4 linked regions of the Homo sapiens genome follow. The protein of the gene in region 1 interacts with the protein of each later gene in a pairwise test. Each region holds a gene or a part of one and is shown in the gene's direction. Other genes may lie near its edges.

Region 1 (6,948 bases):
CATTCTGGGGTACTGGGGCTTAGAACTTCAGTATACGAATTTTAAGGAGGCACAAGGTGTCCGTGACAGTGCTGTGTTAAGTGACTGGAAGGATGAATTTCCTTTTTCACTTGCACTTTCTTTCTTGAAGTTTTGTTTGAAGCTGCTTGAAGACATCTCTGCATCCTGTCTTATGTGGATGCTACTCCCACTGCAGAGATTATTCGAGAGGTTGGAAAGGTTGGAAAAGAAAGAGAGGATGCTTTTGAAGGGAGAAGGGTAAGAGTACAGACAAGGGAAGCTGTATTAGTCTGTCTGTTCCCACACTGCCAATAGAGACATGCCTGAGACTAGGTAATTTATAAAGAAAAAGAGGTTTAATGGACTCACAGTTCCACATAACTGGGGAGGCCTCACAATCACGGCGGAAGGCAAGGAGGAGCAAAGTCACAGCAGGCAAGAACATTTGCAGGGGAACTCCCCTTTATAAAACCATCAGATCTCATAAAACTTATTCACTGTCACGAGAACGGCACAGGAAAGACCCACCCCCATGATTCAGTTACCTCTCACCTGATCCCTCCCATGACATACGAGAATTATGGGAGCTACAATTCAAGATGAGATTCAGGTGGAGAGACAGCCAGACTGTATCAGAAGCTTTGCCAAGAAGACCCGGAGAGTAGCAGGAACTCTCCTCTGTTCTTTGGCATTACCCTGTGAAGGCTGTGTGGCTCACCTGGGGACTGTGCCTCTGGCAGGAAAGTCTTGTGCTGTCTGCTCCTGAGAGAAGGCATGGCTTCTGGAATGAGATGATCAGTAGCACAGATGGGCTGAAGATGAGACGTTACATTCCACATTCCCAGAACCATAATATCCCCCAGATTCCTCTGTGTCCTTAAGGAGAGAAAGTCAGAATGAGAACTGACATTTGATTTCCTGCTACTCTAGAGAAACAAGAAATGGAATTTGTTAATTTTTAAAATAAAAAAAGTGAATTTTCTATATTTATGGAATGTGTGATTACAAATTCACATAAACTTCCTTGTCTAATTTTTTTTCTTTTCTTTTTCTTTTTCTTTCTTTTTTTTTTTTTTTGAGACTGAGTTTCGCTCTTGTTGCCAGGCTGCAGTGCAGTGGTGCGATCTCGGCTCACCGCAACCTCTGCCTCTGGGGTTCAAGCGATTCTCCTGCCTTAGCCTCCCGAGTAGCTGGGATTATAGGCATGTGCCACCACGCCTGGCTAATTTTGTATTTTTAACAGAGACAGGGGTTTCTCCATGTTGGTCAGGCTGGTCTTGAACTCCCAACCTCAGGTGATCTGCCTGCCTCGGCCTCCCAAAGTGCTGGGATTACAGGCATGAGCCACCACACCCAGCCCCTTGTCTAATTTTTTAAAAAAAATTCAAGTGTGGGTCTTGAGCTTCCCTTGATTTTCTGTCTAGAAGAGAAGTGTCAGAACGGCTATCTGCTTTCCCAGCTTCTGGGCCATTTGCTGCAGCACTGAGTCGCCAGCCTGCTTCGCATGAGCAGGGAAATTTTGCCCATCTAGGTAATCAGGAAGAGCTTGTTCAATGAGTGAAGGGTGAGTCATACTGCATTGGCACAAACTCTTGGCAACAATGAGTGTCCTTTACAATGGGCTCTATGGGACAGCCCTCTGGGGGAGATGGGCCAGCCAGACCTGAGTAAGGGGCTGGACTGAAAACTGACAGTGACAGGTGGAAGTGAACTTGAGAGACCCAACAAACTTCTTGTTGGAGAGAACTAGGACAGCTGCTCAGAGGCAAAGCTCAGAGTAGAGGATTTCACTCAGTATTTATTGAGCACTTATTATGTTCAAGGCCCTAAGAGGGAATATGTAGAAAAATGCTGTTCTCTAGAATCGTAAGATCTAAGCATCAGAAAGTGAATGCCACAAACATTAAGTGTGGCAGATGCCATGATCAACACAGACAAAGACTAAGTATTACACCAGCTCAGAGATCAGAGATCTAGGGATGGGGAACTCCATGATAGGCCGGGAAGTCTTTGCAGGGAAATCTGCATCTGAGTGCCTTTTGAGGCCTGCTGCAAACAAAACTTTCAATGCCAGTGTCCCCTCTCACTATCTCCCCAACAATGGTTGCATTCACAAAGACAGAGCAGGGGAATGAAGTCACATGTATTACCACATGAGCAATTACAAGTCTCAGTTGGGTCAGGGCATTTTTGCACCTTAACTCTCTTCCTGCAGCCCCAGATGCTCCTTTGCAGTCCCCCAGCTTGAGTGTTATACGTCTGTGTTCCATGAGAATGCCTGCATCTTAATACAGACCCCTTTATTGTGGGGAACACAGCACAACGTCTGTGCATTTGCAGTCACCCACCTGTGCATCCCCTGAATCCTTCATTCATAAGTAGTACTCAACCAGGAACTTCTTTGGTATCCCAGCTCGGACACGGGAGGTGTGAATATATTTTTCATAAAGCCCAGGCCTTTATGCAGAACGATTTTCATCCTCTAGTGAGAGGCTGAAGTAACAAAGTGCTGTTGTTAAGATTCTTCCCATTGTGCATTTTTCTTGAATAATGACATTTCTAAAAAGAATCTGAAACTGAGGCATTAGAAGGCAAGTGCTCGTTCATATATTTGAAGAGGTCAAATATTTACCAGAATAACTTCTCAATACAGAGGGGACAGCTTTATTTTATTTTACTATAAAGATGTATGTGTAGCAGAAGACAAATTATGCAGAGCTTTGAGTTAGTTAAGAATCATCTGATTTAATTCTTTGGAGAAATGAGACAAATTGTAGCTAAGGACTATGGAGTTGTTTTAGTTTGCCAGTTATATTTAATTTGACTATTTCTTTATTTATTGAGAGACAAAGTCTCACTCTGCTGCCCAGGCTGGAGTGCAGTGATGCAAACACAGCTCACTTCAGCCTTGACCTCCTGGGCTCAAGCAGTCCTCCTGCCTTGGCCTCCCAAAGTGCTGGGCTTACAGGTGTAAGCCATGGCACTTGGCCTATTTGACTTGTTTAATCCCTCCGAAGAACTCATACATACTATTGCCACCTCATTTTCCACGTAAGAAAATGGAAGCACGAAGACCTTAATAACTTGCTTAATGGCTAGTAGGTGGTAGAGCTTGAATTTAGACCACACAGTGTGGAGGGTATGCTATTAAGGAAAAACGATGTTCTAGTGGGGTTTCCATTTAATATTGCAGAAAAAAGAATCTATATATTTAAGAAGGTGTTATTTCATGCACACTCGTAGGTTTTGTTCATATATGCACATCTGACGTATAATTTAACATTTGTGTAACTTCAAGCTTCTATGGGGAGTGGCAGAAGATGCAGGAATTCTATTAATACCTTCGCAGATCTTAGATTCCAACAAGCTGGATACCTTAAGAAAAATAAAGAAATTGCTGTGCTTGGATCCCAGATGTCCATTCCACCTTTTGGGACCTCCCGGGGGGCCCTCTTTTCTTCATCCTTCAAGACAAGGATAGTGGGGTGAACAGACAGACTTTCCTTGCGAGGGTTGGCTCAGGAAGGCTCTGGGCTCATCTCACAGCCGCCCCAGCGAGGGTCGGGGAGGCAGGTGCTGGCTCCGGTGGGGTCTGCGGCAGAGCAGGACTGGAGCCCAGGGCGCAGCTGCACAGCTCAACGCCGGTTCGCGCCCTGGTTTACAGCGTTGGGCTGGGTCACCCCTTCTTTCCTAGCTTGCTGCTGTGTGTTCCCTCGGTGTAGGAATCAGGGGAGTGTCTTCTGGAGGCCACTAAAGCAGGAATAGCATTTTCATGTTAGCGTGCACGGGCGGTCTCCGCAGCCCCTCCTCGTGCCGGAGCCTGTCCTGGGGCCTGCGGGGCGGCTCCGGGCCTCGGGCCGGCGCAGGCGGGCGGCAGGGGGCGCTGTGCGGCTCGGCGCGGGGGCGGGGCCGGGGCCGAGCCTCCCGCGTGCCCGGCCTCTGTGCGCGCTCGCGCCCCGCCCGCGCAGCCGCTTCTCCCCGCGCGGGCTCTCGGCAGGCGGGAGGCGGCAGGGCTGGCATTGCAGTGCGGGCCGTGCGGGCTGCGCGGGCGCGGGGAGGCGCGGGCGGCAAACTGCGGGCACCCGGCACCCCGCAGCCAGTACCGGGCGGAGGCGTCAGAGCCGCGCACCGCGGACGAGCAGGCCCAGGTAGAGTGACGCGCGTCCCCTTTGTGTCCGCATCGCCCGGGCCGGCCGCGGAGCGGGGAGGGCGGGACGCGGCGCTGCGCGGCCGGCCTTGGGGCTCGGGGCTTGCGGCCGCGCCTGCCCCGCTGGGTCCTGCCCCGGCGCCCGGTGGCAGCGGGCGGGGGGCAGCGTCCCGGGCGGGGACTCGCGGGCTCCGTTCAGAGGACGCCCGCCCTGCCCTGCCCGTGTCCCTGACCTCGTCCCTGCTCTGCTCCTGCCCTGCCCTGCCTCTCGCAGGCGGCGCCCGCGCCCCAGGGCAGTGGGCGCTTAGGGACCTGGCGTCCCCCTGCCTGCCCTGCGCGGTCGCGGGTCTGCGCTGCGGCGCGGGACAGGGCGCCCCGGGCCAGGGTCCCGCGGGCGAGCTGGCGGCGGGGGCTTTCAAGGTTCGCGGCCCCGCCCGCAGACCCTGGGGCTGGAGCCTCGGCCCCAAGAGGAGGTCTGGGAAAGGACGACGCGTCCGGGGCATCGCCACCGGCGGGGAAGGTCGGAACTGGCCAAGAGGATGCCCCGCACATCCCCTGCGCGCGGGGTCCGCGGCTGCTACTGCCCCTGGTCCCCACCGCGAGCCCTTTCCCGGGGAATGAGCCGCCGCCCGAGCCCCGGAGTTCCCTGCGGGTCTTACCCACCCCAGCCTCCGGCCGCCGACCCCAAGCCCCCTGCACTGTGCTTGGCTCCCAGCTGTTTGGTCGCTTATGCCATCCTGGAGGCTTCCTGGTCCTGGGGTGAAGGGGTGACTTCTTTACCCTAATGGTCTTCGTAGGCAGGTCTCAGGATGTCCACTCCAAAGTTCGTGGTCTTTTTTCTAGAGAATAATAATTTTTAAAATCCATTGAACTGGCCGGGCGCGGTGGCTCACGCCTGTAATCCCAGCACTTTGGGAGGCTGAGGCGGGCGGATCACGAGGTCAGGAGATCGAGACCACGGTGAAACCCCCTCTCTACTAAAAATACAAAAAATTAGCCGGGCGCAGTGGCGGGCGCCTGTAGTCCCAGCTACTCGGGAGGCTGAGGCAGGAGAATGGCGTGAACCCGGAAGGCGGAGCTTGCAGTGAGCGGAGATCGCGCCACAGCACTCCCGCCTGGGCGACAGAACGAGACTCCGTCTCAAAAAAAAAAAAAAAAAAAAAAAAAAATCCATTGAACAAACATCCTGCGCTGCCTCCTGCAGGATCAAGGCTGGGGTAACAGAGGAGTGAGGTAAGGCCCCAGGGAACTATCCCCAGTGGATCCCTGCTGCCCTGCGGTGAGAGGGGGTCTAGCTCCTGCACTAAGAGCCTGGGAAGAAAACACTTCCCGTAATGGGGCCTGGGAGATGGAAGGAGGACATGCCCCAGTGAATGGGGCTGGGGTTGAGAGTTGAGCCTGGCAGATAAGATGGATTTGTAAATGAAATGCCAGGTAGAAAGTAAGTTGGTGTAGACGCCTGTGGAGCTGTGGGAGCCCCCAGGAGGGAAGGGAGGGAGTCAGGGTGTCCCTGCAAAGGGAGTCCCCTTTGCAAGGGAGGGGGTGTCTGAGTCAAAGCTTGCAGGTGGGGCAGGTCAGAGGTGGCAGGAAGGGCCTCTGTCCAGAGAGAGCTGCTCCAGCGCAGGAAGGGGGAGGGACAAGGTGTGTGACACCGTGAACTTTCCCAGGGGATTCACCCAGTGGCTCCAAAGGAGACAACAGCCTTTTTTATTGTATTCTCTTCTCCGGTACTGAGATTAGGGAACCTTGTTTTTTGCACTTTTCTAATGCCTTTTACATTTTTGTTTTTATTTTTAAAGCGTGCAAAGGAAATGTGACTAGAGGGGTCAGAAGAGGATAAATCATGAAATCTTTGAATTCTAGGCCAAGACTTTGGGTTTGACTCTGTGTCAGTGGGAGCCATTGATGGTTTTGGAGGAGGAGGGTGATCTGAGCCCTGCTTTAGAGTGATTTCCGCGGTGTTGCGTGGAAGGGAAGGCATGGTGTGGTGTGCCTTACTGTGGCTTCCGAGTCAGACCCCCACTGGCTGTGGGCTTCCACCTGCATCAGGCATCAAAGGCTGTGGATGGATTGAGGACCTCATGAGAAAATGGGTGCAAATAACCCAATTTTAATGGGATGGAAATTTTCCAGACCCAGTGCAATTTGATTTTTGCAGTTTGTGTTTTTAAAGAGCTCCCGATTCTAATGTCAGCAACTCTGGAAGAGGAACTAATGAAGGGCAAACTCAAATGCACGATGCAGGCACCCCCAGGTCATCTGTGCCATGAGGATTTGGGAAACTCAAAGAGCATTGTAAAATGCATATATTTTATAAATAGATTCCAGTGCCCTCAGCTTGCTAGTTGGTAATCCCTGTATCCAGACTGTTGCTAGAGTAAGTCACGTCTCCTGGGGATTCAGTGTGGTTTGGGACTTTGAAGGGACCTCACACTGTTTGGCTGAAGCTGCTGAGGTTCAGGGGTAGAAGTGCCACTCTGGCAGGCGGCGGCAGGGTTGGGAGCTACAAGCTACGTTGCCTGCCTCTGAGAACATTCTTTCCCCTGTGGTCCACCACGTGGCCCCACTGCCTACTTTTGTTCACATTTCTCCCTCCTGGAAGCCTTTCCCTCTGGGGGTAGAGATGGGAAGGAAGCCTGCCCTTGGAGACTGACAATCACAGAACCAGGTGGGCCAGCACCCACCTGGCCTATGAACCCTTGTTGTAACCATGGGAACCTCGTAGCTTGGAAAGGAGGGGTCAGGTAGCCCAGGCCACATGAAAAGCTGTGGCTGGTCCAGCCCTGGCATCAGCTTTTCTG
Region 2 (7,358 bases), on another chromosome or scaffold:
TGGCGTGCTCTTGGCTCACTGCAACCTCCACCTCCCAGGTTCCAGTGATTCTCCTGTATCAGCCTCCCAAGTAGCTGGGATTACAGGTGCCTGTCATCATGCATGGCTAATTTTTTGTATTTTTATTAAAGACAGGGTTTCACCATGTTGGCCAGGCTGGTCTCAAACTCCTGACCTCAGGTGATCCACCTGTATCGGTCTCCCAAAGTGCTGGGATTCCAGGCGTGAGCCACCGCGCCCTGCTGTGTTTTTAAAGTGAGGTGTTTTCTTATTACTCAGTTTTAAGAGTCCTTTGTGTATTTTGGATACCAGTCCTTTATCAGATATGTATTTTGCAAAGATTTTCTCCCAGCCTGTGGCTTGTCTTTTCATTGCCTTAACATTGTCTTTGCAGACCAGAAGGTTTTAACTTTAATGAAGGCCAACTTGGCAATCATTTCTTTCATAGATAATGCTTTTGCTGTTGTATCTAAAAAGCCATTGGTAGATTTCCTCCTATGTTATCTTCTAAGCATTTTATAGGTTTGTGTTTTACATTTAGGCCTATGATCTGTTTTGAGTTAATTGCTGTGTAAGATGTTAAAGTCTGTGTCTAGATTTATTTTTTGCATGTGGCGGTCCAGGTCCAGTTGTTCCAGGACCATTTGTTGAGGAGACTATCTTGTCTCCATTGACTTGTCTTAGCCACTCTGGATCAGCTATTTGTGTGGGTCTAGGCTACTGTTTGGGTTTCGATGTTTGTGCCCTCCAGACCTCATGTTGAAATTTGATCCCCAATGTTGAAGGTGGAACCTAATGGGAGGTATTTGGTTCACGGGTGTGGATCCTTCATGAAATGTCCTTCCTGGGGGTAGGTGGGACGGGGAGATGAATTTTCACTCTATTAGATGACTCTGGAGCTGGTTATTTAAAGGAACCGGGCCCTTCTCTCCTCTCCCTCTTGCTTATACTCTTGTCATGTGATCTCTGCACACACGCACACTCCCTTTCATCTTTTGCCATGAGTGGAAGCAGCCTGAAGCCCTCTCCACATGCAGATGTCCAATCTTGAACTTTCCAGCCATTAGAATTGTGAGCCAAATAAACCATTTTTTCTTTATAAATTACCCAGACTCGAGTATTCCATTATAGCAATACAAAACAAACTAAGTCTATTTCTGAGCTCTATATTCTGTTCATCTTTATACACATTTTTCATCCTTACCATGAAGTTCGTATGTATCCAGCAGGTAGTAAAATTCTTATTTCGAAAATGAGGAAACTGAGGCACAGAGTGAGCAGGGCCCCTCTCCCCAGGCCAGCAGCTGGTTAGAATTGAAACCCACATCTGCCTGGCTTTGATTCTGTGCACTTTCCTTGCCCCCAAGGTGCCTAATGGTGCTAGAAAGAGACTTAGTATGTCAACCTTAACCTTAGATGTTGCTCTCTAGGGCCTAAATTGTAGCATCTCCCTTTCTTAATGGTTGCTGGAATCTTGGGCAGCTGCTCTTTGATTGTAATCAAGGCTGCCTGTCACTCACGGTTTCTCTGAACCTGTAATGTGAGTCTTGACCTGCCTAAAAACTGGCTTTGCTTAAAACATGTAGCCCTCTTTATCAGCATCCTCTAATGTTTTGCTGAGATCTTGTGCGTAACTATTTTTTCCCTGGTTCATACTGAATCCTTTTTGCTGAGAAGTCACTTGCTCATGGGGCTTGTCTTATTGTCTTTTTGAAGACAGGACCTTGCTGAGTGGGATTGCTAAACGGAGCACAGTGCTAAAAATCTCCTGGGTTAAATGTCACCATACTCCCATCAGGGCCTGGAGCACTTGCTCTCAGAATTTACAAACATTAACTCATGTTGGCGCTCTGTGTTGCCCAAGGAGAGCATCTCTACAATTTATGAAATTCTATTTTACTGCCAGAAGTCAGCAAAGAGAAAAAGAAAGAAAGAGAGGCAGAAAGAGAAAATTCCACAGTCATATTTCAAACACCAAGGGATAGATTTTTTTCTTAAGAATATAAGATTTACAAGCTCCAAACAGGAGTGAAATAGTTTGCAGAAGCTCTCACAGCAAATGAACTGGTAGAGTTCAGATTCAAATCCTGATCTGGTGCCAAGGGCAAAGCAGGTGGTCTTTAATCCTACCAGGCTTCTCTCTGTGAGAAGGGGACATGCTTACTGTGGCCTCAGCAGACAGAGTAGGCTGCGTGGGATCTGGGAGATCTTCTGTGAATGGAAGGCATCATTTCACCACTGTGCAATTGAACTAAGATACATTGTTTTATTTATTTTTTATTGATTTTTATTATTATTTTTTTGAGACGGAGTCTCGCTCTGTCACCAGGCTGGGGCGCAGTGGTGCGATCTTGGCTCACTGCAACCGCCGCCTCCTGGGTTCAAGTGATTCTCCTGCCTCAGCCTCCCGAGTAGTTGGGACTACAGGCGTGCGCTACCACGCCCAGATCATTTTTGTATTTTCAGTAGAGACGGGGTTTCACCATGTTGGCCAGGATGGTGTCAATCTGCTGACCTCATGATCTGCCTGCCTTGCCCTCCCAAAGTGCTGGATTACAGGCGTGAGCCACCGTGACAGGCCAGATTTGTTGCTTTAAAACAAAGCATATATGGTGGCTTACTATGATGTCAAGCACTGTTCAAAGCACATTACAAAGCTGGGCAGGATGGTGCTCGCCTATATTTCCAGCTACTGGGGAAGCTAAAGTGAGGCGATCGCTTGAGCCTAGGAGTTCAAGGCTGCAGTGAGCTATGATGTTGCCACTGCACTCCAACTTGGTGACAGAGTGAGACCCACTCTCTAAAACAAAGACAAAAACACATTTTACAACTGCTAAGCCATCTGCATGTGTTCATTAAAACTTTTTCTGGGGACTTTTTCTGGCTCATCCCTGTAGTCCCGATGCTAGGGGAGGTTGAGGCAAAATGATCGCTAGACAGCTGGTATTTGAGGCCAGCCTATGCAACATATCAAAAACCCGTGTCTATATGTAGAAAAAATATTAACTAGGCGTGATGACACAAGCCTGTAGTTCCATCTGCTTGGGAGGCTGAGGCAGGAGGATGGCTTGAGCCTGGGAATTTGAAGTTCCAGTGAGCTATGATTGTACCGCTGCATTCCAGCCTGGGTGACAGAGTGAGACCCCTGTCTCTAAAAAACAAACAAATGACAACAGCAACAACAACAGAACACTTTTTCTGAAGCTAGCACCATGCAGTTATGTACTTTATAAATTGCTAGTCTAATTCCAAGGGAATAGTTCAGCAGCTGATATTTGAGAAGGACCTGTAGAAAGGATTCAAAGACCACGGACACCGTCCACTGTTTTTCTGTTTTCCTATAAGATAGAAGAAGGATGGCATTATTAATTTATGCCCTGTTTACCTATCCCAAGTCCCAGATCACTGGATCTTTAAAGATTATGATTCTCGCTTGGCTTTTGGTACAAAAGGAGACAAGGAGGGAGCTTAAAAGGTGAGCACGGTGTGATTCAGGACTGAAGCTTCTGCCACTTCCTGGGGGGTAACTGCAAAAGTGAGCCGTTCTGACTAGCCGTTTGTGCATTTGCCACTGCCAAGGGGGCACAGGTAGATTCAAGCTTTGGGGCTCTTCTGACAACTGGCAAGGATAAGGTATTAGCAAGGGCAAAGGAATAGTAATAAAATAATCCAATAACAAAGACATGAAGATTTATAATAATTTTTAGGCCGGTGCAGTGTTTCAGGACTGTAATCCTAGGGCGCTTTGGGAGGCCCAGGCGGGAGGATCGCTTGAGGCCAGGATTTCGAGGTTAAGGTGAACTGCGCTCCAGCCTGGGCAATAGAGTAACACCCTGTCTCTAAAATGAAAAGAAAACAGTTTAAACCTTTTAAGTGCATACCAAATCTTTTATTTTGGAGAAGGAAAACTGGTCTCGAGTTCCGTGTGAGCTCCCTGGGGCCCGCCGGGAGGGGGTTGGCACGGCCGGACCTGCAGCACTAGTTCTGGCCAGGGCGCTGTGGGATCTGCAGGGGACCACAGGATGCTGTGGCGCGGTGCGCTCAGATTGGCGGAGAAACGGCCACACGCCTACGGAGCTACTGAGAAGGCGAGCGGAGGCGCAGCCCGCCCGCCCGCCGCGGGAACCCCAGGTTGGGGCGCTGGGCGCGCGAAGACTCAGCCGCCCCGCCCACCAAGGGCGCGTCGGTCCCCGGCCGCAGCCTCTGGGCTGGCAGCCGCCGCCGCGCCGCGCTCCCATTGGTGCCCGGCGGTGACGCGGCCGAGCGGGCCGGGGCTGCCTGGTCCGGGGGCGGGCGTGGGGCGCGGGGCGCGGAGCGCGAGGGGCGGGGGCCGGGCGCACTGCTGATGAAACCTGGCGCCGGAACCCGCCAGCCCTCGGCGCCCATTCAGTCCGCGCAGGCAGGTGTGAGCAGCGGGTCAACTACCTGGCAGGCGCGCACGCGGCCGCGGGCTCCCGCTAACCGCAGCCTCCACTCCTCTCCCCGCGCGCCGCGCCCCCGCCCCGCCCCGCCCCGCCCGGTCTCGCCGGCCGAGCGTCCGTTGGTCCTTGAGCGCGTCCGACAGTCTGTCTGTTCGCGATCCTGCCGGAGCCCCGCCGCCGCCGGCTTGGTGAGTGCCCGGCCCCGCCAACGCAGGGGGCAGCTCCTTGGGCCCGGGTCATCACGGAGGGGGCCCTGGCGCCGCGTGGGGCCGCGGCAGGGCGGCGCGGGAGTGGCGAGGGCCCCCGCGCCGGGAACGCTGCCATCCTCTGGGAAGGGCCAGGACCAGGGCCGGGCGGGCCCCGGAGTGGGCGAGCGGGGCTGGTGCCCATGCGACTGTCGCCTCCACGGAGTCCATTTTGGCTCCCTGAAACCGCGGCGTGGTGCATGATGCAACACCGAGTGAGTAAGCGTGGGCGATCTGGCGATGCCCGCTCCGCGCGCCTGTCCGGGGACCCGCGCGCCGCTACGCACGGGGTGGTCGGGGTGCGTAGGCGGGCGGCGGGCACGGGGGCCAGACTGGGAGGCACACGGAGCCCGCCGGCGGCGAGGAGACCTTCCCTTACATGGCGCGGTGCAGAGCACCCCGCCCCGCCACGAGGTCCGGGGATGTGTCATCAGCCGTGGGTGGGGACTCTGCCCGGCCGCCCGGAGGGTGGTCCCGCGGCAGGTGGCCGGCCCAGGGACTCTGCTGCCATCCCCGCCCGGTGGCCGCCCTGACCTAGGGCGCCTGGCTCTCCGCTTGTCCCTAGAACCCGGGACGCGCCGCCTGCACCTCTCGTCTGGGTCCCCAAGATTGCTTTGAGGAAGTCTCCCCTAGGTGGGCTTCCTTGTGACCCAGTGTGGCCTGGAAAGGCCGGGTTCCTCAAGCCCTCCACATGGTTTGGAATGAGAGGAAGTTCTTCCGCCTTTAGCAAGACACCGTATTCTCAGGGTGTTCCTTTCTGCGTAGTAGAAAACTTCCCAGGCATGGGCAGGTCAGAGTCATTCTAAAACCTGCGCGTACACAGAGCGGCAGCTGCACTGTAGTACTACAACAGCCTGCTGGTTCAGCTCCTGACCCTTTCCAGGGGATGGGGGAACCAGACAGCAGTTGTGTTTGACTTGTGTGACTAGGATAGTCAGACATGTGCCTTCAGGAAAAAAATAAATAAATAACCTACATTTCCCAATACTCACGTCATCACCGCCATGCCCTCATGTGTTGGGTTTTAGTCCAGACATAGTTACCAGATGGTTGAGATTTCAATCCCAGGTGTATCTCCCTAAAGAATGTGCCTTTTATCTTACTTACATTCGACTAGTAGAATTGTGTATGTCGGCCTCTGGCCGAATGCCCTAATTGTATTTAATTCGAATTATAATTTATCTGGGATTTTTCCTAACATTTCTTGCCCTTTATGTTTGGTTCAGATAATAGGAAACCATGATACATTTATTCCTCTGGTATTTTTAGTTGATCTCAGTGGAAATTACCATGATTTTTATATGAACACACCCTCCTGTTATTAAAACAAAAGGTCTTATTTAAGTCACACGAACAGAATAGAAACTTAGGGGAAAGGTCAACAATAGATTAAAATGGTTTTAAAAATAGGTTTAGCATATTACGATCATGTTTAATTATTATAAAGGTAAAATTCAAAGGATGTCAAAGGAGTTTTGAGTAAAGAGGAAAGGGCTTAGTAAGTAGATCAGAAATGTACTCCCTTGTCTGGGTCTGGATCCTAGAGCCACGTGCTCCTGTACATATGATTACTTGCTTTAGGTGAAAAAAAAAAAGAAAGGCTTGAAAGACAAGACTGTTGACTTCAGGGAGTTACAATTTTCTATTTGGTAGAAGAACTCATTCTTTGATGGAATTAAATACGTGTTGATTGATTATTCTGGTCTGTAGTTTATTTTAACCAAAGTCCATACAAATAGATAATTATGTTGGAGGGCTCAGAATTATGTCCAATTAAATTAATCCTTTCTCATTATCAACCATGTATTTGGAGGGATTGCTATTAATCCTAGGGACAAATTTGAAATGTGAATAAGTGCATCCTTGTTATGGAGAAAAATATTGTTTCCCTCTAACCTTGGAGATACTTGAGTCTCGGAGTTATCTCTTCCAGAGGCATCTTCAGAGATGCCTATCACTCCACCTGCCTCTTGGTCCTCACTCCAAGCAAGACCTTCCGATAGGATGTGGTGTTTTTCTGTATAGTTGGCCCCTGCAGACCTGGATAGATTTTAAAGGCAGATCCAATAGGATTGGCCGGTGGATTCATGGAAGGACGAGAAAGGTCAAATATGACTCCAAGCACATCGGAGTTGCTGTATTAATGAGATGGGAAGGCTGAGCAAAGAACGTGTTGGATGGAAGAGGGACTTTTTGAAAGTCACAACTGACCTTTTTAGAACTCTTATCCCCAGGGTCAGGGCTGGAAGATGTATCTTCTTGGGGCCCCTCTCAGGTGCCTGCCTGTGTGTTGCAGCCACCCGTCCAGGCTGCTGGCCTCCTTCCCCTTCACCTAGCTTTACTGGCTCCTCTCGCCAAATCTGGGGGGTCTCTTCAGCCTCTGTCTCCTTGCTGCCCATGGCCTCCCTTTGCTCCCCTGCCGCCTTCTAGTGGGCCGCCTGGTGGTGGACTTGTCCTGTGGGATGGAGACCCTCCATACATGGGGTTCAAAGGTCCTGGGGTATTCCTGGATCTTCAGGACATCTGCCTACCCTCAGGTTTCCCAGGCCTCGGGTGGGGAGGCATCAGATCCCTGGCCAACCTGCTATCCACCCCAGGGTTTAGACCTCTCTTCCCGTGAGGGAACAGAGTAGTAGCTTCATTTGTGGCAGATTATCTGCCTTGTGATAAACTTTAGTGGCCTCCCTTTCTG
Region 3 (7,022 bases), on another chromosome or scaffold:
TACAGGCATGAGCCACTGCGCCCAGCTAAGTATTGGGATTACAGGCATGAGCCACTGTACCCAGCCCTACAATCTCTTTTGATCCTTTTAATCAACCCTATGTGATAGGTAAACTCATTTGACCGAGGAAATTGAGGCTTATAACAATTAGAAGATAACAGATAGAAGAGCTAAATGGTGAATTGTATTTTTAGTAGAGACGGCATTTCACCATGTTAGTCAGGCAGGTCTCGAACTCCTGACCTCAGTTGATCCACCCGCCTCGGCCTCCCAAAGTGCTGGGATTACAGGCATGAGCCACCATGCCCAGCCATATCTGCATGTTTCTAAGGAGCAGCTACAGAGCTGTCATCAGACTCAAAAGACCACCTTTGACTCCATAACGGTTAAGATGGTGATTTCTTGGCTTTGGAGACCTTGCTGCTCTGTGATACTTTAGGTACAGTGTTACACAATGTCCCTTTTTGGTCATAGCTGTCCCCAGAGATTTTCAGACCACAGTAGTCCATTGATATGCTTAGATCAAATCTTCCAAATTGCAACTCTTCACAGATAACTCTGAGGGTGCTTGACACAGAAGTGATTTTCATTTGCTGCTGGGATGCAGAAGGGAGTCATTCAGTGAATGAGGTTTGCACTCTTCCCAGCATCCCCATTTAGCAACCCTGTTTAATTACAGTCTTCTTGTTCTCTGTGTCTCATGGGAGAAGTTCTTTGCTTAGATGGTTTTCTTGAATTGACAGATTGGAAAGTCTCAGGAAATGTCCCTTTCAAGCGGCAATAATTGGACACTCTCTCCCTTCCCCCCATGTTACATTACGTTATCTTATTTTTGCAGCATCATTTAAAAGGTATTTCAACTTCTCCCTGGAAAGAGACAAGTATTCAATAAAGAAATACATTTTCTATGTTCTAATTGAGAAAACTGAAGTTCAGAACGATATAAATGTCATTATTGAAATTCCTAGATATTATGAGGCAGAGGAGAAAAGAGAAATTAGTCCCCATGATTTCTGGTGAGTCTGCTATACCCTTAAGGCTCCCACTTGCTAAGCGTATGCTATTTCTAAACAGGCTGGGGTGGGGGAGTGTGGCCAGGGCCCGGCAAGGTGAACCACTAACTAGAATTCTCTTTCTGCTTCCTCAAGGGCTTGACTTTGTAGAAACTCAGTGAGTCTATTGGGGCCTCTTGGTTGTTATTAATAAATTAGGGAGCCTTCCAAGTGCCTTCCTGGGTTCTTTGACTACTGCACGGGAGTGCTGAGAGATCCCATGGAATGAAATTTCAGGAGAAATGCAGACAGGTTGGGCGTCTTAGAGGAGAGTCTCCATGAAAAAGCTGCTGTATGTCATTACATCACATTAGGAAGAACAGCCACATTGTTCTCATTTCAGCTAAGTAAACACTTCTAACGTCATTTATTCTTACGTATTTTTCCTCTTTTTCTATAGGTGTTGTTTCGGTTGATCACCTTTGTCTTGAATGCATTTATTCTTCGCTTCCTGTCAAAGGAAATCGTTGGCGTAGTAAATGTAAGGTAGGAGGAGATGCACCCTGGCACTGTCAGAGTTCACCTTCCTAGCCAGGCTTTCTTCAAACTCTGTACCTGTTTGTCATCCTTGGATTCTAGAAGCATGGACCTTTATCAGAAGCAGAATGTCTTAGCAGTAGGCTGAGGAGAAGCGTGCAGGAGTGGAGGGACGCGCAGGCGATGTTGCTTTTAATGGACTCATGGAGTGTTTTCCATTAGCAGCCTCCAAATGCACATTTCTTTGCCAGCTGTTCTGGTTTTCCTGCTCTTGGAAGTCAGGAAGGAGAAGAGTGGGAGTAATTCATTAAAAACTCTCTCTCAGATATAATCCTATGTTCTTGTCCTGCTGACAGCAAAGGAAACAGAAATTCAGTAGTTTGTGAGGATGCGCTTCATAATGGCAGGGCTGGAGCAGCCACCTTCCTTCCCTCCTCAGTGATTTTATAATTGGGATATGGCAACTGGGATTCGAGCTTGAGTCTTTGTCATCAGTTTCTTGGAGGCTCTTGGAAAGATGACTTCTTTGTCTTTTAGACTCAGCTTGTTTCTTCTACTCGCCTCCTTTCTGTTCAAGGACACCCACGCATATTTTGTCTTCACAAATGACACAAAGTATATGAAATGATGTGAGTGCTCAGAATAGCTCAGCTTCTCAGGTGTGTCTTCATGTCCTGATAAATAAGACAATATGTTCCAGACAGCATTTCATGTCTAATACTTACCAAACATATACTCTTGGCTCTGGTCTCAGAGCTTAGTGGCAGGACTCAAGCTTTGAGCAAAGGAATCATCTGTGGAGTTTTGCACTACATAGTGCTGAACAGGGGCCCAGGAATCTGAATTTTTATAAGCTCCTTAGGTGATTTTGAAACAGGGACCATTCTTTGAGAAATATGTTTTCTTTTCCTCTTCTTCACCTTCTTCTTCTTTTTCTTTTTTTGAGACGACAGGCTTTTGCCCTATCACCCAGGCTGGTGTTCAGTGGCGCCATCATGGCTCACTGCAGCCTTGACCTCTTGGGCTCAAGCGATGCTCCCGTATGAGCCTCCTGAGCAGCTGGGCCTACAGGTGTGCACCGCCACACCTGAATAATTTTTTTATTTTTTGTAGAGATGAGGTCTTACTGTGTTGCCCAGGCTGGTCTCGAACTCCTGGGCTCAAGTGATCCTCCCATCTTAGTCTCCCAAAGTGCTGGGATTGTAGGCATGAGCCTGAGAAATATAGGCACTTGGCCCTAAGAAATACTGTTTTAAAAGCAGGAAGGAAGAGGGGCAAATCCTCCTAGGGGCTCAGATTTTTCTCCCCAGGCAGCCTTCCTGAGATTGGCAGGTCCTGCTTTGACAGCCCTTGTCTGGCCTGCCCTGCTCCCCTGCTTAAGGTTTGGTTCCATCTCCTTATTTGCAGTGTTCCACAGAGGCACTGGGTAGCAGGATAATCCTTGGACAACCCCAGAGACCTTAACCCTGGGCTGTCCCTACTCTGGCTTCACCCAGACGGCTGTCTATTGAGGAGGGGAGATCTCAGCTACTCCTCGCTAAGATGCAGGAAGGCTCACCCAGGTGCTGCCCACCTGGGAGGTACCCAGGCACGCCTTGCTGATCTGGGTTGCAGCAGCCTCTGTAATGGTTGCCAGCCTTGTTGCCTGTCTTGAGATTCTTTTGGCCAGAGCCTCCACTCGGTAGAGGCTCAGCTTTTCTCACAGGGGCCATCGGTCACTCGTGTCAGTGTGACCAAGAAGGGTGGGGTTATAATCTTATCTTCTTCTCCTCCTTATGGTCATGGCCACACCTCTGCCTGTAGCCATGAAGGCTGAAGCCTTTTGAGGCCACTGCAGCAGTTTCTATCCTTCACGTAACTGTAGGCACACACCCTCAGGTGTCTTTCATTTGGTTCCTAACTCATTAGTTCTCATGGATCAGACCGGTAGGGGGTCCTGTAAGAGCCCACTGCCTTCCACATCACCACCAGTGGTTTATGACCAAGACTTTATCTCCTCCCTGTTGCTGGAAAAATCCCAGAAGTTCTCTCTATGAAAAAACTTGAGACCTTATTGATTTCTCCCTTTCATTTACAGACTAACGCTGCTTTACTCAACCACCCTCTTCCTGGCCAGAGAGGCCTTCCGCAGAGCATGTCTCAGTGGGGGCACCCAGCGAGACTGGAGCCAGACCCTCAACCTGCTGTGGCTAACGTGAGTTGTGCTTTGGCAGGAGACACGTTTCAGGAAGGCAGGTGTAGTGAGCATTGGAAATGAAACAGTAACACGTGCCTAAAGCTGAATTGCCCCCAGATTCAGTTTCGTCATGGGTTTCTGGGAGCAGGCATACAACAAGACGGGGACAGTGTTTGTGTCAAAGGAACTTCTTGGCTCATTTTCTCTCTGGATATCCAGGAGCCAGGAAGAGGTTCTGGGTTGGGGTTTCTGGGCCAGGTTTCTAGCCCTGGTTTCATCCTCTTTGGAGGTGGTTTCTTGCTGTTTCTGACCACCACTGTGGGCTCCACTTGGCCTGTGCCATCTTTTTTATTCCTAATCTTTTTGCTCTATAATATCTTTTGAGCTTTTAACAGCCACTTAGATTTAGTATTTCTTGAAAGCCTTTTATGGGTTTTATTACATTTTTCTTCAGTTTTGTTATGTGACTTCAGTTCTGAGTCTTTTAGGATATTCTTGAAGATCAAATACATTAGCTTAAAATTGCAATGGCTTTTCTCCAGCTAGGTCCCCACAGGGAGGGCTGGGGTTTGAGGTTATTTCCCAGTGCTGCCCTTGCATAACTCCTTATTGCCTCACAGAAATGACTGTCATGAGGGCTGGTAGGTGTTCATTTTATTAGAGGAACAACTGTTAACCACCCAGTCATATTTAAGTGCCCCATGGTACACATGTGAAACATGCGAAAGGATACTGAGCACTGCTCTGTTGGTTATTTGGGATGCAAGGAACAGCTGTATACAGTCTGTCAGTCATTCTAACAACAGGCATTTTCTTTCTGGGAATTTTGCTTATGGGGTCAGTATGTGTAACCCAGTGGATAGAAGTTTAGGCTTTGGAGTTATTGCAGGATTGGGTCTTGCTTCTGCCCTTGATTAGCTGTTCATGACCTTGGCCAAATTGCCCAGTGCCTGTCAGCCTCAGTTTCATTTTTTTAATGGAGATAATGACAGAGGATCATTGTGAGGTGTCAGTGAGATAAGCGGCGTGAATCATAGTGCCTGGCATGTAGTTAGTATCTTATAAATAAATGGTAGCTGTTTGTATTATAACTATTTTTTTCTGTTCAGTGTTACTATTTTAATATATATTTATATTTATTTTAAAATTTAGTGAATTATTTTTTTCTCCTCTTCTAGAGTCCCCCTGGGTGTGTTTTGGTCCTTATTCCTGGGCTGGATCTGGTTGCAGCTGCTTGAAGTGCCTGATCCTAATGTTGTCCCTCACTATGCAACTGGAGTGGTGCTGTTTGGTCTCTCGGCAGTGGTGGAGCTTCTAGGAGAGCCCTTTTGGGTCTTGGCACAAGCACATATGTTTGTGAAGCTCAAGGTCAGTGCACCTTCTGCTGTGAATGGGAAATGGGAAGAATAAGAAAAAGCGTTGTTTTTTAAAAATGCTTTTATAGGAGAGAATGAATGATTTTTCCAGACTTGCACCTAAAAATGTATTTAGAAAAAGATAACATGGTCAGTTAAGTTCTTACACTTGAAATTTGTCAGATGGGCTAGGCTAAAGTTCACCTCTGTTTCACCATAAATAAAAAACAGATTTGCTAATAATTTATTAGTTCAAGTCAGAATTTAGAAGGACCGTAAAGGTTTTTCAGATTTTTCTAGTGGTTATATTTAGTTGTATACTAACATTAACTTTTCTCTCTTCATCTTTTATAATAGATTACAAAAGAATATATATTTAATGTAAATCTTAAAGCATAATATACTGAAAGATCCATGAACCCACCACCCTACCCAAGAAGTAAAACGTTACTGATACTTATGTCCAGCTGTGTGCCCTGCCCCCACAGCCAGGGTGACCACTGCCCTAGATTTTCTGTCTATCATTCCATTACATCTTGACTTTTTGATGATGTTTGTAAACTGCACCTTAACCACATGTTTGCAGGTGATTGCAGAGAGCCTGTCGGTAATTCTTAAGAGCGTTCTGACAGCTTTTCTCGTGCTGTGGTTGCCTCACTGGGGATTGTACATTTTCTCTTTGGCCCAGGTAAGAATCATGGCTTTTAACTTTTTATATGATCTTTGTTTCTCCAACTGGTTTTTCTTCTTGTTCCCACCGCCGTGTGGTCTGCATTCACAGTACCCATGCCTGTGCAGGAGGTGGAAGCACCAGAAGGGTGGCCTTAGCACTGCTTCTCTAGCTGCCAGGTCCATTGTGTTCCATACACTGAGACCGTAGGTGTTTCTAGGGACCTGGTGAGGGCCACACACTGGACTTCATTGTCAAACATCAAAAACCCCTTTTAGACATTCAGTGGGCAAGCCTGTTTCAAACTGATCTTTGGTCATCTGATAGTCTTGTAAAGGAGAAAAAAATCAGTGGGGGGTGGGGTGGGAATCAAATTGTATATGTATTATTTTCCCTGGATTTCCATCTTTTTTTTGCAGAATAGGTGGAAACTCTGCCAAGCCTGTTTTAAACTTAGTTTGAAATCTCACATAATTCAGAGGGCATGAATCAAGTCAGAGTAGGTATGTGTTCAGTTTTAGCAATTTAGGCTTCATTTCCATCTCATTGTTTCCTAGTTCTAGTTCATATTTCTGGTTCTAATAAAAATACAACTAGAGTACAAGTGCTATTTTTAAAAATGAAATTTAAGATCAGATAGTTACCAGAACATTTTACAGTGCAAAGCAGTTGTAGTTTTCATTAATGTTTAGGAAGATAAATTAAGATTCTTAGTAATGATTTATGTAAAGGGTACTTCTCACAGAGGACACTGGCATCAGGTGGGTGGCTCACAGCAGTGCCGCTGGAGCTTTAAGGGCTTGGAGCATGAAGAAAGAAGGCTGGTGGATGATGGGCTTTGTCTCAGGCATGGTTGGGAGTGGAGAGCAGAGGGGCCCACACCTACTAAAGTGAGACTCTTCTTTTTCCTTGCCCTGTGCCTTTACTACAGGAGCAGCCTTGATATTGCCAGGTTGAAAGCAAGTCTAGAGGTGCCAGTCTTTCTTGAACCAGTGTGCACTGCTGTTCTCAGGAGGGAAAGAGGGTCGAAGGGAGCTTGTGAAAAGGGGCTTTTTTGGACTTTCCTCCTCAATCTGCAGACAAAACCCATCTGGCTGCTCCTGGCCAGAAGCCATTCTTTTGTCCTGGATGGGTGGAGGGAGGGGTGGGCCCTCTTATCACCCTACCCTTTCTTCCCCTATCTGTAGTAGCTCTTGCCCTGGCGAAGAGGAGAGAGCCAGCAGCTCAATTGTGCTTTGTAATCATTAATGGCACAGGTTTCCGGGGTTTATAGAAAACCCACAGTCCTTGAT
Region 4 (7,433 bases), on another chromosome or scaffold:
ACCTGTAATCCTAGCACTTTGGGAGGCCGAGGCAGGGGGATCACAAGGTCGGGAGATCGAGACCATCCTGGCTAACACAGTGAAACCCCATCTCTACTAAAAATACAAAAATTAGCCGGGCGTGGTGGCACACGCCTATAGTCTCAGCTACTCGGGAGGCTGGGGCAGGAGAATCGCTTGAACCTGGGAGGCAGAGGTTGCAATGAGCTGAGATCACATAATTGCACTCCAGCCTAGGCAACAGAGCAAGACTCTGTCTCAAAAAAAAAAAAAAAAAAAAAAAAAAAAGAAAGAAAGAATTCAGAGACTCACTGTCATGAGTTCAAGGGGCTGAAGCCCAGGACTGGGCTGGAGGGCACTTACTGAGTGACCCTGGGGAAATCATGACTTTTTTCTTTTCCTTTTCCTTTTTTTTTTTTTTTTTTGAGACAGAGTTTCGCTTTTGTTGCCCAGGCTGAAGTGCAATGGCGCGATCTCAGATCACTACAACCTCTGCCTCCCAGGTTCAAGCGATTCTCCTGCCTCAGCCTCCTGAGTAGCTGGGACTACAGGCATGTGCCACCCTGCCCAACTAATTTTGTATTTTTAGTAGAGACGGGGTTTCTCTATGTTGGTCAGGCTGATCTCGAACTTCCGACCTCAGGTGATCTGCCCACCTGGGCCTCCCAAAGTGCTGGGATGCTGGGATTACCGGCATAAGCCACCATACACTGCTTTTTCCTTTTTAAAAGACAGGGCTTGTTCTGTCACCCAGGCTGAAGTACAGTGATACCATCAGAGCTCACTGCAGCCTTGAACTCCTGGGCTCAAGCAATCCTCCTGCCTATGTCTCAGGAATAACTGGGGTTACAGGCACCCACCACCATGCCCAGACAGGAGTCTCCCTAGTTGCCCAGGCTGGCCTCAAACTCCTGGCTTCAAGAGATCCTCCCACCTCAACCTCCTAAAGTGCTAGGGTTACAGATATGAGCCACCAAGCCTAGCAGAAATCATGATTTATTTATTTATTTATTTATTTGAGACAGAGTCTCACTCTGTTGCCCAAGCTGGAGTGCAGTGATGCGATCTTGGCTCACTGCAACCTCCACCTCCCGAGTTCAAATGATTCTCCTGCCTCAGCCACCTGAGTAGCTGGGATTACAGGCATGCACCACCATGGCCCGGCTATTTTTTTTGTATTTTTTGTAGAGATGGGGTTTTGCCATGTTGGCCAGGCTGGTCTTGAACTCCTGGCTTCAAGAGTTCCGCCCACCTTGGCCTCCCAAAGTGCTGGGATTACAGGCGCAAGCCACCACCCCTGGTCAGAAATCATGATTTTCTATCTTAGTGTTTCTAGATGAAAGCATGGGAACCATCACCCCTTTCTACTTTCCACTAGTTTGCCAGCTAGGGATGAAAGCGCTTTGGAACTTGTAGGGCGTAAATCAGCTGTTTTATCATAAGAAAGTATTTCTCCAGGCTGGACACGGTGGCTCATGCCTGTAATCCCAGCACTTTGGGAGGCCAAGGAGGGTGGAACCCTTAAGGCCAGAAGTTCAAGACTTTTTTGGGACAGGGTCTCACTCTGTCCCCCAGGCTGGAGTGCAGTGGCATGATCTCGGCTCACTGCAACCTCTGCCTCCTGAGTTCAAGAGATTCTCCTGCCTCAGCCTCCCAAGTAGCTGGGATTACAGGTGTGTGCCACTATCGCCCAGCTTTTTGTATTTTTAGTAGTGATGGGGTTTCACCATGTTGGCCAGGCTGGTCTGGAACTCCTGACTTCAAATAATCCACCCACATTGGCCTCCCAAAGTGCTCGGATTACAGGCGTAAGCCACCATGCCTGGCCAAAAGAAAGTATTTCTCCAGATGTAATCCCAAACCCTCCTACCCTACCTCTAAGCTTTAGTATAAAAAAAAAAAAAAACCAACAGGCCGGGCGCGGATCCCCTAAGGTTGGGAGTTCGAGACCAGCCTGACCAACGTGGAGAAACCCTGTCTCTAAAAAATACAAAATTAGCTGGGGGTGGTGGCGCATGCCTGTAATCCCAGCTACTTGGGAGGCTGAGACAGGAGAATCGCTTGAACCCGGGAGCCGGAGGTTGCAGTGAGCTGAGATCACGCCATTGCACTCCAGCCTGGGCAACAAGAGTGAAACTCCGTCTCAAATAAAAAAAAAAAAAGACTGATCTGCTGCGCAAGTAGGTGAACTAGTATAATTGCAGAAACTATGTGAGCTTGGAACTGGAAAGATTGGGTCCTGCTTCTAACTGCCTTTTACTATGTAACTCTAAACATGTTACCTAACCTTTCCAACTCTGGTTAGTACCTACTGTATGGATTGTTGTCAGTCAGATGAGATAATTCACCTACAGCAGTTGGACTAAACCTTCTTAAAACTCCTTAGGTACATAATAACTGATAAGTGTTATTATGTTAATATGGGCCAGTACTTTTGATAGTAATTTACATAACTTATTCATTTATTCATAGACTATTTATGGAATATTTATGATTAATACTTATCAATGACTGCTTTAAGTATAGGGAATACAGGTGAACAAAACAGATAAAAATCTGTAGGGAAAGAGATAGTAAATATTTACTTATTTACTTAGAGACGAAGTCTTGCTCTGTCCCCTAGGCTGGAGTGCAGTGGTGTAATCTTGGCTCACTGCAGCCTCCGCTTCCCAGGTTCAAGCAATTCTCGTACCTCAGCCTCCTGAGTAGGTGGGATTACAAGCGCGCACCACCAGGCCCAGCTAATTTTTTTGTTTATTTGTTTTGAGACGGAGTCTTGCTCTGTTGCCCAGGCTGGAGTGCAGTGGTGCAATCTCGGCTTACCGCAACCTCTGCCTCCCAGGTTGAAGCAATTCTCCTGCCTCAGCCTCCAAAGTAGCTGGGATTACAGGTGCACACCACCATGCCCAGCAAATTTTTTTGTAATTTTAGTAGAGACGGGGTTTCGCCATATTGGCCAGGCTAGTCTTGAACTCCTGACCTCATGATACGCCCGCCTCGGCCTCCCAAAGTGCTGGGATTACAGGTGTGAGCCACCGCGCCCAGCAATTTTTTGTATTATTAGTAGGCATGGGGTTTCGACATGTTGGCCAGACTGGTCTTAAATTCCTGGCCTCAAGTGATTCACCCACCTTGGCCTCTCAAAGTGTTGAGATTACAGGTGTGAGCCACCACACCTGGCCAAGATAGTAAATAAATAAACAAGGAAAATACATAGTGTACTGCAGAGTAAAAGCAGCAGAGAGAATAGAAAATTGGAAGGAAAGTAGGTAGATTACTGTGCTGGAGGTGGTGGTGTTGCTATTTTAAACAGGAGGGCCATGGAAGGCCCCTCTGATCAGGTGACATTTTTTAAAATTTTATTTTATTTTTTATTTTTTTGTGAGACAGAGTCTCGCTCTGTCACCCAGACTGGAGTGCAGTGGCGTGATCTTGGCTCACTGCAACCTCTGCCTCCCTGGTTCAAGCGATTCTCCTGCCTCAGCCTCCCGAGTAGGTGGGATTACAGGTGCCCACCACCATGCCTGGCTAATTTTTATATTTTTTTACTAGCGACGGGGTTTCACCATGTTGGCCAGGCTGATCTTGAACTCCTGACCTCAACTGATCGGCCTGCCTCAGCCTCCTAAACTGCTGGGATTACAGGAATGAGCCACCAGGCCCAGCCAAGATCAGGTGACATTTGAACAGAGAACTGGAGGAGGTGGGGGGGGGAACCACGTGGATATCTTGGAGAAGAACTGTACAGGGAACAGTGTGCAAAAGCCCTGGTGGTAGCCAACATAGATGGGAGGGAGAGGAGCAGGGGATGAAGTCAGAGGAGTGGCAGAGGGTCAGAGGACAGAGGGTCTTGTAGGCCATTATAAATACTTCGGCTTTTACCCTTAGTGAGATGGGAAGTCATTGGAGGCTCTTGAGGAGATGATACGGAAGCTGTAGAGAGGTTAAATAGTTTTTCCAAGGTAAAACAGCTTGTAAGTGGCAGAAGGTAGGGAATTAAGCTCCAAGGCTGAAGTTCTTAACCCCATGCTGCCACTGAACTTTAGCCTTCTTTATTTGGGCATTGCTATCCTGTGACTTCAAAGAAACTGGGACACTGGGAAGTTATGCGGCTTGCCCAAGGCCACACAGCTGGTAAGTGACAGGGGCAGGACTGCGCCTTAGTCTGTCTGCAGCCCGACTCCAAGTTCTTTACACCACACCGCCTCCCTCAGGTGTCTGGACCATACTGGCTTCTCTTGCATGGAGGTCACTGCAGTGGGAGAGGAGGCAAACCAAGGAGACCTTCTCGGCTTCGGGCAGCGGTGCTGTTCCTTAGGAAGCTCCAACCCTTGGCTCTACCGGACTGCGGGCATCTTTCCCGAGCACTGCACGGAAGAAAAGAAAATTGGCACTTATTTCAGGGTGGCCCCTCAGGCATCCAAGAGCCAGAGGAGCAGGTGTCACGGGATGGCAGCGAGCGAGGCCAGGCCAGGAGAAGCAACCGCAGCCTCCTATGGTCGCCCCTTCCCGACCCACCCCAGGCGTCAGGAGTTCCGCGCCCGGGTAAGGGAAGGAGGGCGGGCGGGCGGGGCGGGGCGGGGTTTTGGCGCCGCGCCCCCGTCACGTGATGAAGCCATCATGGCGGCGGCCAGAGGCCTGCCCGGCTCCCGGAAGCAGGCTGTGAGGGGCGGGAGCGCTGCTGGAACCCGAGCCGGAGCCGGAGCCACAGCGGGGAGGGTGGCCTGGCGGCCTGGAGCCGGACGTGTCCGGGGCGTCCCCGCAGACCGGGGCAGCAGGTGAGGCGGAGTCTGGGCGAGGTGCAAGTGGATGTGGCAGGGCTGGGCAGGGGCTAGGGGGCGCAGTGGGGTGCCAGTGACCTGGAGGAGTGGGCCTCTGAGATGCACACGCATGACCCTGAAGCAACTCGAGAGGCCTGCGCGGGTGGGAGGGATGCCCGGGACAGAGGATGAGACACTGAGGGCAAAAAGAGGCTCCGCAGCGAGGACGGGAGGTAATAGAAGGAAGTGTACGGGAGCTGCTGTGGGAAAGGGCAGTAGAATTTGCGGGAGCGGGATTATTGAAAGGGACTCCCTCTTCACAGGCAAGGATGGGTTGAGTGCCCAGTCCTCTCCCCTGTCTTCTTACCCCTCCCTGCCCCACAGTGTCCTAGGAGACAGCTTTGGCGTGGCCACTCCTCCCACCCACCCAACTGGTCCCTCCGGTCTGAGATCTTGGGGAGTGGAGTTGGCAGCGGGGTTGGGTGGAGCTGCCATCTGCTTAAGACAGCCCCTTGACCGTGCTGCCCGAAGGATGGATATGGCTCTGACTCCCACCTCTCTTCCCAGGTCGTCCGGGGGCCCACCATGCTGGTGACTGCCTACCTTGCTTTTGTAGGCCTCCTGGCCTCCTGCCTGGGGCTGGAACTGTCAAGATGCCGGGCTAAACCCCCTGGAAGGGCCTGCAGCAATCCCTCCTTCCTTCGGTTTCAACTGGACTTCTATCAGGTCTACTTCCTGGCCCTGGCAGCTGATTGGCTTCAGGCCCCCTACCTCTATAAACTCTACCAGCATTACTACTTCCTGGAAGGTCAAATTGCCATCCTCTATGTCTGTGGCCTTGCCTCTACAGTCCTCTTTGGCCTAGTGGCCTCCTCCCTTGTGGATTGGCTGGGTCGCAAGAATTCTTGTGTCCTCTTCTCCCTGACTTACTCACTATGCTGCTTAACCAAACTCTCTCAAGACTACTTTGTGCTGCTAGTGGGGCGAGCACTTGGTGGGCTGTCCACAGCCCTGCTCTTCTCAGCCTTCGAGGCCTGGTATATCCATGAGCACGTGGAACGGCATGACTTCCCTGCTGAGTGGATCCCAGCTACCTTTGCTCGAGCTGCCTTCTGGAACCATGTGCTGGCTGTAGTGGCAGGTGTGGCAGCTGAGGCTGTAGCCAGCTGGATAGGGCTGGGGCCTGTAGCGCCCTTTGTGGCTGCCATCCCTCTCCTGGCTCTGGCAGGGGCCTTGGCCCTTCGAAACTGGGGGGAGAACTATGACCGGCAGCGTGCCTTCTCAAGGACCTGTGCTGGAGGCCTGCGCTGCCTCCTGTCGGACCGCCGCGTGCTGCTGTTGGGCACCATACAAGCTCTATTTGAGAGTGTCATCTTCATCTTTGTCTTCCTCTGGACACCTGTGCTGGACCCACACGGGGCCCCTCTGGGCATTATCTTCTCCAGCTTCATGGCAGCCAGCCTGCTTGGCTCTTCCCTGTACCGTATCGCCACCTCCAAGAGGTACCACCTTCAGCCCATGCACCTGCTGTCCCTTGCTGTGCTCATCGTCGTCTTCTCTCTCTTCATGTTGACTTTCTCTACCAGCCCAGGCCAGGAGAGTCCGGTGGAGTCCTTCATAGCCTTTCTACTTATTGAGTTGGCTTGTGGATTATACTTTCCCAGCATGAGCTTCCTACGGAGAAAGGTGATCCCTGAGACAGAGCAGGCTGGTGTACTCAACTGGTTCCGGGTACCTCTGCACTCACTGGCTTGCCTAGGGCTCCTTGTCCTCCATGACAGTGATCGAAAAACAGGCACTCGGAATATGTTCAGCATTTGCTCTGCTGTCATGGTGATGGCTCTGCTGGCAGTGGTGGGACTCTTCACCGTGGTAAGGCATGATGCTGAGCTGCGGGTACCTTCACCTACTGAGGAGCCCTATGCCCCTGAGCTGTAACCCCACTCCAGGACAAGATAGCTGGGACAGACTCTTGAATTCCAGCTATCCGGGATTGTACAGATCTCTCTGTGACTGACTTTGTGACTGTCCTGTGGTTTCTCCTGCCATTGCTTTGTGTTTGGGAGGACATGATGGGGGTGATGGACTGGAAAGAAGGTGCCAAAAGTTCCCTCTGTGTTACTCCCATTTAGAAAATAAACACTTTTAAATGATCATTGATTTGATTTACTCATCCTTACCTGTAGCCTTATCAGTAGTTTCTGGTGAGTGGGCAGCTAGAGGTTTTTTTTTTAGTTTTTTTTTGTTTTGTTTTGTTTGTTTTTGTTTTGAGACGGAGTCTTGCTCTGTCGCCCAGGCTGGAGTGCAATGGCGCGATCTTGGCTCACTGCAACCTCCGCCTCCCGGATTCAAGCAATTCTCCTGCTTCAGCCTCCCAAGTAGCTGGGATTACATGTGCCTGCTACCATGCCCAGCTAATTTTTGTATTTTTAATAGAGATGGGGTTTCATGTTGACCAGGCTGGTCTCGAACTCCTCACTTCAGGTGATCCACCCACCTCGGCCTCCCAAAGTGTTGGGATTACAGGCATGAGCCACCACGCCCAGCCCAGCTAGAGGTTTTGAGGTGGGATTATCAGCAAAAGTTTTCTGTTTCTAACTTCTCCAAGGCTGTCTCCAGTTCAAACTGAGAACTATGGAATTGCTCTCAGCAGAGCTGTGTGGGAAGGGCCTG

The links.
Region 2: the proteins of RNF144A (region 1) and SLC7A1 interact in binary tests that used the Homo sapiens proteins (3 or more experiments, as listed by UniProt).
Region 3: the proteins of RNF144A (region 1) and RFT1 interact in binary tests that used the Homo sapiens proteins (3 or more experiments, as listed by UniProt).
Region 4: the proteins of RNF144A (region 1) and SLC61A1 interact in binary tests that used the Homo sapiens proteins (3 or more experiments, as listed by UniProt).

Annotation. Positions count from the first base shown.
Region 1 is NC_000002.12:6,913,475-6,920,422, forward strand, and holds the start of RNF144A (E3 ubiquitin-protein ligase RNF144A), read left to right. Parts: upstream 1-3,937; 5' UTR 3,938-4,148; intron 4,149-4,927; exon of another isoform or gene 4,928-5,208; intron 5,209-5,319; exon of another isoform or gene 5,320-5,380; intron 5,381-6,948. UniProt on the Homo sapiens protein: E3 ubiquitin-protein ligase which accepts ubiquitin from E2 ubiquitin-conjugating enzymes UBE2L3 and UBE2L6 in the form of a thioester and then directly transfers the ubiquitin to targeted substrates.
Region 2 is NC_000013.11:29,592,667-29,600,024, reverse strand, and holds the start of SLC7A1 (high affinity cationic amino acid transporter 1), read left to right. Parts: upstream 1-4,336; 5' UTR 4,337-4,609; exon of another isoform or gene 4,610-4,881; intron 4,882-7,358. UniProt on the Homo sapiens protein: High-affinity, low capacity permease involved in the transport of the cationic amino acids (arginine, lysine and ornithine) in non-hepatic tissues.
Region 3 is NC_000003.12:53,120,425-53,127,446, reverse strand, and holds part of RFT1 (man(5)GlcNAc(2)-PP-dolichol translocation protein RFT1), read left to right. Parts: intron 1-1,452; coding exon 1,453-1,538; intron 1,539-3,606; coding exon 3,607-3,723; intron 3,724-4,883; coding exon 4,884-5,073; intron 5,074-5,646; coding exon 5,647-5,748; intron 5,749-7,022.
Region 4 is NC_000012.12:53,247,491-53,254,923, forward strand, and holds SLC61A1 (molybdate-anion transporter), read left to right. Parts: upstream 1-4,604; 5' UTR 4,605-4,778; intron 4,779-4,897; exon of another isoform or gene 4,898-4,993; intron 4,994-5,327; coding exon of another isoform or gene 5,328-5,345; coding exon 5,346-6,698; 3' UTR 6,699-6,916; downstream 6,917-7,433. UniProt on the Homo sapiens protein: Mediates high-affinity intracellular uptake of the rare oligo-element molybdenum.